Regions from separate parts of the Homo sapiens genome. Here regions 1 and 2 are each linked to region 3. The links come from fine-mapping of genetic effects on gene expression. A gene starts in region 3. Each other region holds a variant in brackets. All regions are shown on one strand. Distances are from middle to middle.

Region 1 (4,192 bases), 33 kb before region 3:
TAGCTGGGACTACAGGTACAAACCACCATGCCTGGCGAATTTTCTTTTCTTTCTTTTTTTTTTTTTTTGAGATGGGGTTTCACCATGTTGCCCAGGCTGGTCTCAAACGCCTTGGCTCAAGCAATCTCCCACCTCAGCCTCCCAAAGTGCTGGGGTTACAGGCATGAGCTACGGTGCCTGGCCTGGAACATTTTTAAAGTGCTGAAAAGGAAAATAGAAATGCCCACCTAGAATTTAATGTCCAACAAAAAATATCATTCAAAACTGAAAGCAAGCTAGGCACGGTGGTGCATACCTGTAGCCCCAGCTACTTGGGAGGCTAAGATGGGAGGTCACTTGAGGTCAGGAGCTAGAGGCTGTAGTGTGCTATGATCGCTCCTGTGAATAGCTACTGGACTCCAGCCAGGCAACATAGAGAGACTCCCTCTCTAAAACAAAAACAACAACAAAAATTGAAGGTAAAATAGAAACTTTAGATACACAAAAGCTGAGAAAACTTGTCACCAGCTGACCTGAATTACAAAAAAAAAAAAAAAATTAAAGGAAGTTCTTTAGGCAAAATGAAAATAATACTACACAGAAGGTTGGGTATCCACAAAGGAAGGTAGACTGAAAAAACGATAAATATGTGGGTAAATATAAAAGCCTTTTTTTCGGATTTTAAGATGTTTAGTAAGATAATCAACTGTTTAAAGCAAAAATAATAACAATGTTTCATGGTGTCCATACCATGTGTTGGAAAGAGATCAAACTAGAGCTCTCTAGCTGAAGGGGTCAGACTTTGACAAAATCCAAATCCGATGCATAGCATCTGTAGAAGTAAAATGTATGAGAATATTACAAAGATGTGGGGGCAAAGTGGAAGTATATTGTTTGAAAGATTTTATCCATGAAGTGGTATTATTATTATTTAAAGTCAGACTGTTACAAGTTAAACATATGAATTATTAACTGTACAGCAACTATTAAAATCATAGCAAAGACATCTAGGTAATAAGTCCGTTGTGAAAATAAAATGTAAGCTAAAATTTAATCAACAAGAGAACAGGAAGAAAGGAAAAATAGAAACAAAGAAGAAATGGGACAAGTGTAAAGCAAACAGCAAGCTAATAGCTTTATGCGTAACTACTGCATATCAATAATTACATCAGATGCAAATAGCCTAAACACTCCAATTAAAAAGCAGAAATTGTCAGGATGAAAAGCTGAGCACGGTGGCTCAAGCCTATAATCCCAACACTTTGGGAGGCCAAGGTGGGTGGATCACGAGGTCAGGAGTTCGAGACCAGCCTGGCCAACATGGTGAAACCCTGTCTCTACTAAAAATACAAAAATTAGCCAGGTGTGGTGGTGCACGCATGTAATCCCAGCTACTGGGGAGGCTGAGGCAGGAGAATTGCTTTTACCCAGGAGGCGGAGGTTGCAGTGAGCCGAGATTGTGCCGCTGCACTACAGCCTGGGTGTCAGAGCAAGACTCTGTCAAAAAAATAAAAATAAATAAATAAATAAATAATTTTTTGAAAGCCCTACTATTTGATGTCTATAAGAAAAACACTTAAAATTTCTAGTGGGAGCTTCGGGGGACAGCTTGGAGAGGCCTGTTGGCTGGTCTGAGCCCTTCCACTGGAGAGCTCTGGGTTCATTTGTTTCCTACATTGAGGGTTTGCATCCAATTAAGGTTCTGGTGAAAAGACATAAATAAAGGTGGAAGACCCCTGGGCAGTGAAAGTGTTCGAGTTGCTTCCATTGTTCTTGTTCTTTGTCCCTGAGCAGTTCTCCAGCTCCTTCGAGTAGGCCTTGTGGATCCTCCTAGCTGCCCTAGCTTAGGAGTAGCTTGGCAGGAGGTACGCCCTGCCATTTGTTTCTTTTTACACTTTAAATGTGGTTGCACATAAGTGACAAAAATCACATTATGTGACTTGCATTTATTTTTGCTGGACAGCACTGCACAGAGCTTCACCCCCTTTCGGAAGGCCTTCTGTACATTCTTTCATTTGACTTGTATCACGGCTCTATGTTAGGGTTAAGGTATGTATTGTATGAAAATGAGTCACGTAGGCAGAAGACTAAGGTCTTGTCCCCACTTATTTCTGTGACTTTGAATAGGTCTGTTTTCTTCTCTGT[A/G]ACACAGATATAATCATCCCTTCCCTGCCAGCCTCACTGAGTTCTCAGGAGACCAAGTTAGGAGACTGTCAGGGAGTAGAGTTGGTGTTCTTATTCTCATGAGGAGGAAGGGAGAGCCTATGCCCCGAGAAGTGAACTGGCCTGTCCAGGCTGGGCACAAGGCACATCCCCCCTGGGCCAGCGTCATTTCTCTCCAGCAGGGATTCCACCGCTAACCTTACGGGGCCATGTTCTCTTCCACCCACTGCTCCATCAAGTCATCAGATTAATTTGACAGGAGAGGCCCCTGCAAAGGGCAGGTTTGCCTTTTGGCCCACCCCAACCTTTGGGGATTGTGAGCCAGGAAAATAAACAAGATTGACCTCAAAGAAGCGTACAAAATGGGCCTTGGGTCAAGCAGCTTATTTATGCAGCAACTTTTCTTCCAAATAGCCGATGGGTTTTGAATCTTTACCAGGCTATTCCTTCCAATGACTCCTTTACCCCTTGAAAAAAAATGATGACCATATTTCTCTCTGTTTTCCAGTTGAAGAAATAGAAGAACATAGAGGCTGAATGTTCTATTCAGAGGCATCCAGCCAAACAGCTGCAGAGCCAAGAGCAGCATCCCAGGGCCAGAGGGGCAAGGCCAGTGAGGTGAAAAGGCAGGGCTGTACACAGGAGGAGAGACGGAACAGCTGGCCGAGAGCAGCCCGTGGGGAGGGGGTGGACAGGCTGGCTGCTGCCCAGATCCAGGGGCCTCTTCAGAGACATGGTGCACAGATGAGTGGCCGTGACTTTCACATGAATGAGTTCAATGAATGAGTTCTTATTCAATGAATGAGTTGTCTCCTAACCACAGATAGGTTGGGCACATTCTCTGCTTTGGGGGTCAGAAGTCCTTTTCCTGGGTGAGATGACTTCCCTGTGGTAGGTTCAGGCCTTATGCTGTACTCAGCTTCTCCCATGTCTAATGGCAGTGCTGGCCGCTGACTGTGCCAGTTTCAGGGCCTGGAGGACCACGTGGCCTTGCCAGAGCGTGATGTGGGTTTGATTGTTGTTGGATAGCAGGTTGAAGCCATCCAGAAAACAGCCACATTCTGTGTAGTGTGGTTTCTAAAAGAGCATCACTGACTGCTCACAGTTGGGGTAGGAGTGGGGCCGTGGATGGGGAAGACGCAGGGAGTGGCAGGAGGGGTGACCCAGCCTCAGTGACCAAAGAGTGCCTGGGCCCTACACATCTTGAATCTTAGATCTGAGCTCCAGGGGCCTTGGCACGGTGTATGCCTCCTCCACACTCAGCTCTCATTCCTTCTGGAGCACAAGATTAAGAACACAGGGGTCTCAGATCTTCAGTTGCTTGTGGGACCCTCCTGGATAGCACCTCTAGTCTTGGCTTGGGGAGCTTCAGGTGAGGGTGTGCAGGAGGGTTGGGGATTAAGAATGGACTTTGAGTTGCACAGACTGAGATTCCTTCCCAGCCATGTGATGTGATGGATTCTATTATCTCTCTCAACCTCACAGGGTTGCTGAGAGGATTGAATAAAACAGCTGTTAACATAATGCCTGGCACGCAATAAGCATGCCATCAATGACAGCCATTATTTTATCAGCAGTTGCACAATGAATCGGGGGAAGCTGGAGGTGAGGGGGCAGAAGGTGGCTCCCTGTCCCGGTGCCCCAAAAGGCTTCTACACAGCTAGCCAGACTCCTGTCCTCCTTCCTTGCCACCACCTCTGAGGCCATGCCCGTCCACTGAAGAGGGTGCCGTGCCTTTGATGACTTTGCTCCCATTTCCAGGCCCCTCTTGCTGTGCTCTTTCTCCTGCTTCCTCCTGCATGCCACCTGACTCTGCCAGCTCCCTGCAGTGGGATTGGCTACCTCTGTTTTTCTGACTCCCCGAGGGCTGACTCCATAGAGGGGGTGTCGAGTGCCTGGACCTAAGTCATACTCAACTTCCCTCCAACACGCAGCTCCCACCCTCCAGCTCTCGTTCTACTCAGCTCTTCCTCCAGGTGCATTCTGTGCCTGGCAGCACCAGAGCAGGGGTAGTGGATGAGGACAGTGGTTGAGAAGCCCTCCTGGCCTT
Region 2 (4,192 bases), 44 kb after region 3:
GTGTCTGGGCGGACGCCACGTGGGGAGCTCAAGCTGCGCCGCCTTCCCCGAGAGACCTCTGCTTTGAATTGTCTTCCTCAGGCTTCTCAGCACCCTGCTTCTCCTCTCATCTTGTGTCCCAAAGAATCAAAGGCAGGACAGAGATTTCTTTGAAGTCAAGGGGATTATCAGGACCAAGAGCAGAAGCTTCAAATGCTGGTGCTCTCTCTGCATTCCCCAGGATGTGACAACCTGGAGGAGTGACAGACACCAGGGGCGCCTGCCCAGGGAGAGCTATGTGTGGCATTAGTGTCTAAAATACTCAAGAAAGCTTGGCCAGGAGAATTTCTGAAGAACACGGGGTGTTTTTAGATGCGCCAAAACCCCAGGCCCGGCAGAAGTAAGGACCTCCCAAATGCTGGCCTGTCCTCTGCCAGGTCTCACACGTCTTTGCATTCCCACCCCCAGCTCCAGGTAGCTTTGGCGCCATTTCATTAAATGACTCTGATCTCCGTGGTGGCTGGAAAGGGAGTGAAGGTGGGGGGCAGCTGCTCAGTTCTGGGGTCCTGGCTTGGCTTGCCTGTGCGGACCCCTCTCATCTGTAGGAAGCACACTGCTCTTCTTCCTCCTCCACCTTGGCTAGCGCAGGAGTTTGCAGGTGGCTCTGAGCTGAGCCCAGAAGGACAATGCAAACCAGGACCATGTCAGTGGGCCTCAATAGAGTCCCAGGAATAGCCTGCCCCGCTCAGCAGTAGGGTTCAGGGTGGGCCATTTAACTTCTCACGGCTGCATCCTCATCTGTCACCAGCTTAGACATTCTGGGCTTGCTGCAGAATGTGCCTGCCCGAAGGGAAACCCAGGAGTCCCCCAAGCCCTCCCTGTCTTGATTGCCCAGCCCCTGCCAGGGGATAGCCCTGGCAAGCAATGCCCCCACTGCCAATGCTACTCACTCCTCAAGTGGACATAAAATGTACTCCAAAAGCCACAGATCCCTGCCCAGCAGGCTGTGCTAGCTCCTGGGGCAGGGCTGTTCCCGGATGCCCGCCTCCTTCCCATCCTCCCTGCCCCTCCCCTCCCCCAGCCTTCTGCAGGCCTGGCCCCGCCAACCGTACCAACTGTGCCTGCAGCTGCCACCGCCTCCCAGCTCCTATCTTGCAATTGGTTGTTTTGTTCAGGAGAGGTCTGTTTTTGTTTTTGTTTTAAACCAGATCGCACCCAATGAGGAGAAAAATACAAAAGGAAAAAACTCAGAAACTCTCCAAGTAAACACAAATTAGCCATCGGGTATAAATTGGGGAGGTGTCTGGATGTGTGACCGACTCCTCTGTGGGTCAGTGTTTCTGGGAATTGGTGTGCACACGTGCCAGTCACAGGGGGTTCTGCGGACGCATGTGTGGAAGGGGCAGCTAGGCGGTGGGCCTGGGTTAGATGCCTGGGAGTGGTGTGTATGCTGACGGCCCACATGCCCACATGTGCAAGGTGCCTGTGACTTGCCTTGTTGTGTGTGCCCAGGTGTGGTACACGTGTGTGCTTGTGCATGCTCCACATGTATGCTGGTTGCATGTGCACTTGGGAGCATTGTCTACGTGTGAGTGTCCTGCATGTGCGTGTCGATCCTGGATGTACATTTGTTCCTGTGAAATGTTGCTTGGGAGGCCATGAGGAAGGGGTTACCTGAAGCTACAGTCCTGTGATAGGACGATCAGAGGTGTCTCAATTGCAGGGGTCTTGACAAACCTGAAGTGAACCTAGACTGCTGCCTGAAGCCCCGAGGGAGGCACGCAGACCCCTCCCCCTCCCCCTCCCCTCCCCCACCCCACAGCCCTACCACCAGGTGGTTTTCCTGGAGCACTAAGGGCCAAGCACCCTGGAATGT[T/C]TGCTTTCAGGGACTGTTCTGTTTACCTTGTACATCATCGGGGCTCAGCCGAAGACACACTTTCCTCTACTAAGCACAGTGAATAATTCACAAAGGGAAAAGCCACCCTTCTTTCTTTCTTTCTTTCTTTCTTTCTTTCTTTCTTTCTTTCTTTCTTTCTTTCTTTCTTTCTTTCTTTCTTTCTCTTTCTTTCTTTCTTTCTTTCTTTGTTTCTTTCTTCTTTCTTTCTTTCTCTTCTTCCTTTCTTTTTTTCTATCTTTCTTTCTCTTTCTCTCCTTCCTTCCTTCTTTCCTTCCTTCCTCCCTTCCTCCCTTCCCTTCCTTCCCTTTCCCTCTCTCTCTTCCTCTCCTTCTCTCTTTTTCTCTTTCTTTCTCTCTTTCTTTTTCATTCATTCTGTCTTTCACATGGCCTTCCAGTGAAGAAAAGCCACATTTCCAGCAAGGTCTGGAGATGCCAGACGCTGCTGTTCATAGCTATGTGCCGATCCCTGTCATGTGCCCAGCACTGTGGAGGCCATGGGGCCTTTGGGGCTGTCCCAGAACAACTGACAACCCCTCCTGGGGGTCAGGGGAGCAGCACAGGGAACGGCAAGCTCACCGTGCAGGAGAGGCTGTGGTCACATGCCACGCTGTGCACAGGTCTGCCACAGGGGTTGTTCACATGGGCTAGAGGGGTGTGGGCACTTTCGGGGAGGTGTCCTGGATTTACACTGAGAATTGGTGGGGGGGAATTGCCTGGCCAAAAATAAATGGGTACAGGCAGACAAGGAGGGATGGACTGCATGGTGGCTGTTCCCCATCAGGCTGGGAGACCTCACCCGATACTCCCTCCTCCTCTTTCTGTGCACCCACTTCCACTCAGGTCCACAGTCCCTTGCATGAGACCTGGGGGTGATCTCACCTTCTCTCCAGGTTGAGCCTATCACCCTCTCTGCCTCCCAGCCCCTCCCAGCCAGTTCCCTGAGTCACCCTCAGTGCACTCCTTGCCCTGGGCTCCCTTGAGGGCAAGCCTGGCTGTCCACTGCCCTCCAATGTCCCCTTGGCTTTGTGCTCTGCCCACCCTCCCCAAGTACAGCTGTGTTTGACAAGAAGGTGGTGCTGAGGAGGAGGGCCGTCCAGCCCCACGGTCCCACGGGCTGCTGAGATGTGCACCGTGTAATGCTGAGTCCCACTGCAAATGATGCCCAAGCCACAGAGGTCTGCAGGGAACCTGGCAATGCTTGTGATTTCCCTATGGCCCGCTACCCCCCGGCTCCCTGCGACTCTATGCTGCAAGAAGAGTCTCCATGCTCATCCTCAGCCCTTTTGTTCCTGATTTTACAGAAATCTGTAAGATATGATGTAAAGCTTCTAACTCCCCTAAATAAGAAACAGATAGGGGTACGAGAATGAGGACCAGACCAAAGGGACAATCTTCAGTTGCAGACAAAGGAAAAGGCAGAACAGATTCTGAAAATGAGTCTGTGGGAACGACAGCAACACAGTAGACCTGGGTTAAGATCAATAAAGGGTCTGCCGTAGGTGGAGACAGTGGGATGAAGAAGGGACAGAGGGCTGGTACAGGGGCATGGGCTGGGTGGCAGGTCGGGGTGCATCTTGGCAGGGGCTTGTGTGTATCAAGGGCCCTGGCCTGTGGATGAAGGCCTCACCCAGCGTTTGGGGCAATGCCAGAGGAGATAATACTAAGGAAGACAGCCCCTTGGAGCAGAGATCTGGGACTCTAGAGTCGCTGGGCAGGCCTTGGTGGCCCTGGTCCCAGGAGGGGAGACTTCTGAAGGGGGAGACAAAGATGCCCTCCATGCTGGTTTGTGCGTCCAGCTTTTATCTTGGAGAATTCTAACTTTGACAAAAAGTAAGTGAGTTGTAGAGTACAGATTACACTTTAAACTAGATGATGTCAATATAGACTGCAAGGATGGGGGCCCTCCTAGAGTCAGGAGACGATGGTGTTAGGTTACAATGACAGCAGTAGAAATAACAAGGACCAGCACTGATTCTTTACACACCAGGCTCTTTGCTAAGTGCTCTACTCATGGTAACGCAGCTGACCCTCATGAGGACCCCATAAGTTGCATTATTGTCCCCATTTTAAGGAAGAGAAAAAGTGCTTCCAACCTTTTCATATCAAGTGCCTGTAGAGAACATGAGCATCTGTATGAAACCCTGGATCAAACAGAAAGAGCCGCTGCTTCTGGCCAGGGGCTCTGCTCACCAGGGGCCCAGGAAATCAATTTCTCTAACTCTATTTCCCAGGGCTCCTGACATCAACTGCAGGGAAATCTCTGCCCACAGTTAAAAATGCACCCACAGCCTGCAGCCTGGGCAGCTGCCCACGCGC
Region 3 (4,192 bases):
GGACAGAGTTTCTGAGATCTGCTATTAAATTATTTAGGGGGAAAATGTATGTGTTGCGGGAGCACAAGGGAAAAGTTAGCAAGATGGTAATTGTTGAGGTTGGGTGTAAAGGTCTGGAAACACCTGGCGAATTTGCGTAACTCCCAATGCTGTGTGCCACCCCTGAGATTCTAACAGAATTGGTCAACTGTGCAGCCTGGTCATCAGCATTTCTTTAGGCACCCCTGGAGATTGTAATGTACAGCGAAGTTTGAGAAGTGCTGATGTGGAGTGCATGGGAACCTATTATGATTCTTTATATCTAACTGGAGGGTTGACATTCTTACAATAAAAAGTTAAAATAATACTGCAGCAAAGCTCCATCCTTGGTAATTCTAAAAGTTCTCCAGGCAAATCTAATGTGAGGATGCCAGAGTGGATGGTGTTAAGCCTAAAGGGTCTTCACCCTAATATTCCTCTACTATAAGAAAAGCTGAGGCACTCCCACCCCCCGTTCTGGGAAGGATTACACCTGGGTGGTTTAGAAAGGGAAAGAGCAATGGAGAGAAGAGAAACTAGCAAATCTCATTATTTCTAGGGTCAGCTCTGACCACCCTGTAAGTCTAATAACGGATTCTGTTTCAGGAGGGGTCTTTCTAGAATGCACCTCTCACTAGCTACCAGTAACCCCTTAGGGAAAGCCGGCTTCCTGGCTTGATATACTAGACCCTTTGGGGCCTGCTGGTCTGTCTCTGATTTTCTCTCATCATTCCTTAATCAACACATACTCATTGATTGTCCAGAAATTACGGCTCTCCTGGAGCTTAGAGTCTAGAGGGGCTGTGCTTCAGGCAAGTAATTAGTGTTCTATTACCAAAGAAGCAGAGGGAGCTATCATGCTGATAACCAAGGGTCACAGCCCTCACCTTTTTATTTTAATTTAATTTAATTTTATTATTTATTTATTTATTTATTTATTTATTTATTTATTTATTTATATTTTTGAGATGGAGTCTCCCACTGTTGCCCAGGCTGGAGTGCAGTGGCAAACCTCAGCTCACTGCAACCTCCACCTCCCAGGTTCAAGGGGTTCTCCTGCCTCAGCCTCCCGAGTAGCTGGGATTACAGGTGCATACCACCACATTTGACTAATTTTTTGTATTTTTAGTAGAGACAAAGTTTCGCTATGAGCTGGTCTCGAGCTCCTGACCTCACGATCCAACTGCCTCAACCTCCCAAAGTGCTGGGATTACAGGCGTGAGCCACTGTGCCCAGCCCCCTGCCTTTTTTTTTTTTTTAATCAAGTATTCATACCTCGAAGTGGCCTATGGAACATAGATTAGAAAATACCAAGCAGGACAAAATGGAAATGCGGGGCCCCCTGCTCCTAAGTTGTGAAGACTTTCAAGATGGAAACGCCAGAACATTAAACCAAGCACGAGGCACCCTTGAGGGCACGGGTCCTTTGGCACCTGCACACAGGGCATGTCCTCATAGCCACTCCAGTACTGAGTTACAGGCCCTGGACATGCTTCACTCAGCCTCACCTTCAAAACCACCTTTGAGGGGCAGGATGGCTATGACAATAAACTGCAAACACTGAAGCGCACGGGCACATAATCCCTCTCTATTTGTGGTGTAACAAATCTTATTTGAGATAACTGGGTCAATGTCTAGGGCTTACAGGGCGGGGAAGGGGGGAGGAAGGGGGACTGAGACTCTCCTGTTTCTATATGCTATGATGGGATTTGACCTGCAATTGAACCTTTCCTCAAACACAAGGCACAAACCTGCCCCAGCCCATCATCCTCCCACAGAGGCACTGTGAATGTATAAAGAAAGGCGATGCTAAGAAACGTGCTGCAGGGGAGGCTGGCACATTCTGCTCCTTAGCTAACCGCACAGGCCCATGGGTCCACACACATCAGACCATGGCTCTCTGTGGTCTATCTTTGCCATTACTTTAACCAGGCTGTTTCTCATGCGCTCATGGAGGGTGACTGAAGATGCCACCCCGAGGTGCACCCTCAGCCTCGCTGGACACTTACGGCTCGCATTCTCCAGCCGGACCAGGCAGTTGAGGAAGTCATCGAAGTCCAGCTGGAGCTCCTCATCCGCATACCTGAGCACAATCAGCTGCAGGAGGTGGCTGCTCAGCTGAAAGCCTGTGGGGACAAAGGAGGAGACCCAGGACTCGCTGTATCCGAGCCCCGAGGTGAGTCTGCACCTTTGAGGGAGCTCCCAGGCAGCTGAGGAGAGGGCTCAGAAGAGGAAGCCACTGTTTCACTCCTCAAAGCTGGGGTCCCCAGACCCAGTGGGACTGCTGCCCTTGGTGTGAATGCAGCGTGAGAGTGTGAATCTGTGGTGCAGGGGCGAGTGTGCGGGGGACTCTCAGGCGTGCTTTCTGTGTTTAATGGCTTCTGAGTTTAGCGAGTTTGTGATCTTAATTTTGATGCTAACATCACCCATAGAGTCTCGCTGACTTTACAGGAAGCTTTGTTTGGGGGAACTTAACACTGGGTGGTGTCTGAGCCCCAAGTTCATTCCTACACCAGCCTCCCCTCGCGTTCTATGTCTCAGGTCACTTCCAGCTGTGGCCCTAGAAAGTTTCTTGGAGGGGATGCTGCTGCCCACGGAGAATGATACTCTGCCAGGGCCCATTCCTACACATCCACGATGGGGGAAGAATGACAGGCTATAGCCAGGAGGCTTGGATCTGAGCCCTGGCACTGCTCCAGCCGTGGCATATGGGTTCAGTTCTCTGGGCTTTGGTTTCCTCATTGTCAAATGAGGAGTTTAGACAAAGTGAACTTCCTTCTGGATTTGATATTTAGATTTTTTTTTTTGAGATGGAGTTTCACTCTTGTTGCCCAGGCTGGAGTGCAGTGGTGCAATCTCGGCTCAGTGCAACTTCTGCCTTCTGATTTCAAGTGATTCTTCTGCTGCAGCCTCCTGAGTAGCTGGGACTACAGGCACCTGCCACCACAACTGGTTAATTTTGTATTTTTAGTAGAGGCGGGGTTTCATCATGTTGGCCAGGCTGATCTCAAACTCCTGACCTCATGATCCACCCACCTAGGCCTCCCAAAGTGCTAGCATTACAGGTGTGAGCCACCACACCTGGCCAGTGCTTTGATTTCTAATTAGTGCCCTTAGAAGTGATTTCTTTCCCCCTTTCATTTTTGTCTACATGTTCACTTTCTAGGAGGTGTTCACAGGATTGTTCAGAAATCCACCCAGGGTCTTTCTGCTTCTTCCTAATTCCAGCAGAGGAGCAGGCAGGTCAGACACAGAGCACAGAGTCCCTGGAGCCTGCACGGCAGTGCTGGCTGCCAGCCTTGGCCAGAATCCTGATGTTTGGGGCTAGAGGAGGGGGATGAGGGGCGATTCTCCCCACACCACGTCAGGGTAGGAAAGACACAGCCATGCCCCTCCTCTCTGAGTGCTCCCTTTGTCCCCTGCTCAGTTCCTCCTCCTACCATGGAAACAGAGTCATCATCCCCTAAGAAAATCAGGCGCCCCTTCTCAGCCTGGCACTTTGCTCATTTATAAATCATCTGATTTTCTTCTCCCTCACATAGGACCCGAGATGGTCCTGGCTGTGTATACTTCATCCTTTTATCAGGCCTGAGCCTGGACATGTTTCCAGATTTTGCTTTCCCTGGGAGAGAACCACTTTAAAAGGTTCAGGAGGCCCCTATCTGTGAGGTGTGCTTGGTGAGAAGCGCAGGCAGCCCGGCAGGCGGGAGGTCTGCAGAGCGCTCGTGGAAACTACGGTTGTGTGTGCAGGACATGGGACCACAGAGATGCCGACAGCCATCCAGCACCGGACAAGAGTGGGAAATGCCACCTGGAGCCCAGCCTTTGGGTAAGGGAGCAGGGTATAAACTATGATGCAGTCATCCATTTTGGATTCAGAGTCTGATGCTGATAAAACCCGGGACAGGGCCACAGGTGGCAGAGGGACGTGCGGACCCCAAACCATGGGTGCTGCATGCTCTGTCTCATCCACGATAACAACCATCTGAGAGCAGAAATGAGAAGTTTGGAATCACTGCAGCTTGCCACCAAAGAGCCATGTGTTAAGTACTGGGCCAGAAAACATGGTCAGAGGCTATGAGGCCTCCAGAGGGCAGGCCAAGTTCATTTTTAGCAGATACATTTAAAAAGTTTCTACCAATGTTCACAGTGGTTTAAAATGAGGGCCCTGGTG

Which allele goes with the higher level. Alleles are on the strand shown, and positions count from the first base shown. SD is a standard deviation of normalised expression in the study named. Not every link is listed here.
In carriers of allele G in region 1, the expression in atrial appendage of the gene that starts at base 2,096 in region 3 tends to be higher than with A alone (moderate effect, 0.44 SD a copy in GTEx).

Evidence for each region. PIP is the estimated chance that this variant, and not a neighbour inherited with it, causes the effect.
Region 1: its variant is the best candidate, but not a certain one, in a credible set for the expression of CAPN9-AS1 in atrial appendage (GTEx, PIP 0.73).
Region 2: its variant is the best candidate, but not a certain one, in a credible set for the expression of CAPN9-AS1 in minor salivary gland (GTEx, PIP 0.66).

Annotation. Positions count from the first base shown.
Region 1 is chr1:230,826,135-230,830,326 of GRCh38, reverse strand. The region is part of intron 1 of LOC124904548 (a long non-coding RNA gene); the gene reads right to left. Among named protein-coding and RNA genes, the nearest start is that of CAPN9-AS1, 33 kb to the right of the region's middle. The variant A/G (reference allele first, on the strand shown) is at 2,125.
Region 2 is chr1:230,749,457-230,753,648 of GRCh38, reverse strand. All of the region lies in intron 1 of CAPN9 (calpain 9), which reads right to left. Among named protein-coding and RNA genes, the nearest start is that of CAPN9, 4.2 kb to the right of the region's middle. RefSeq lists an enhancer at 1-2,956. The variant T/C (reference allele first, on the strand shown) is at 1,856.
Region 3 is chr1:230,793,115-230,797,306 of GRCh38, reverse strand. CAPN9-AS1 (CAPN9 antisense RNA 1) reads left to right here and starts at 2,096. Exons shown (of 2, transcript XR_001738518.2): 1 at 2,096-2,194. CAPN9 (calpain 9) reads right to left here. Exons shown (of 20, transcript NM_006615.3): 18 at 2,028-2,144.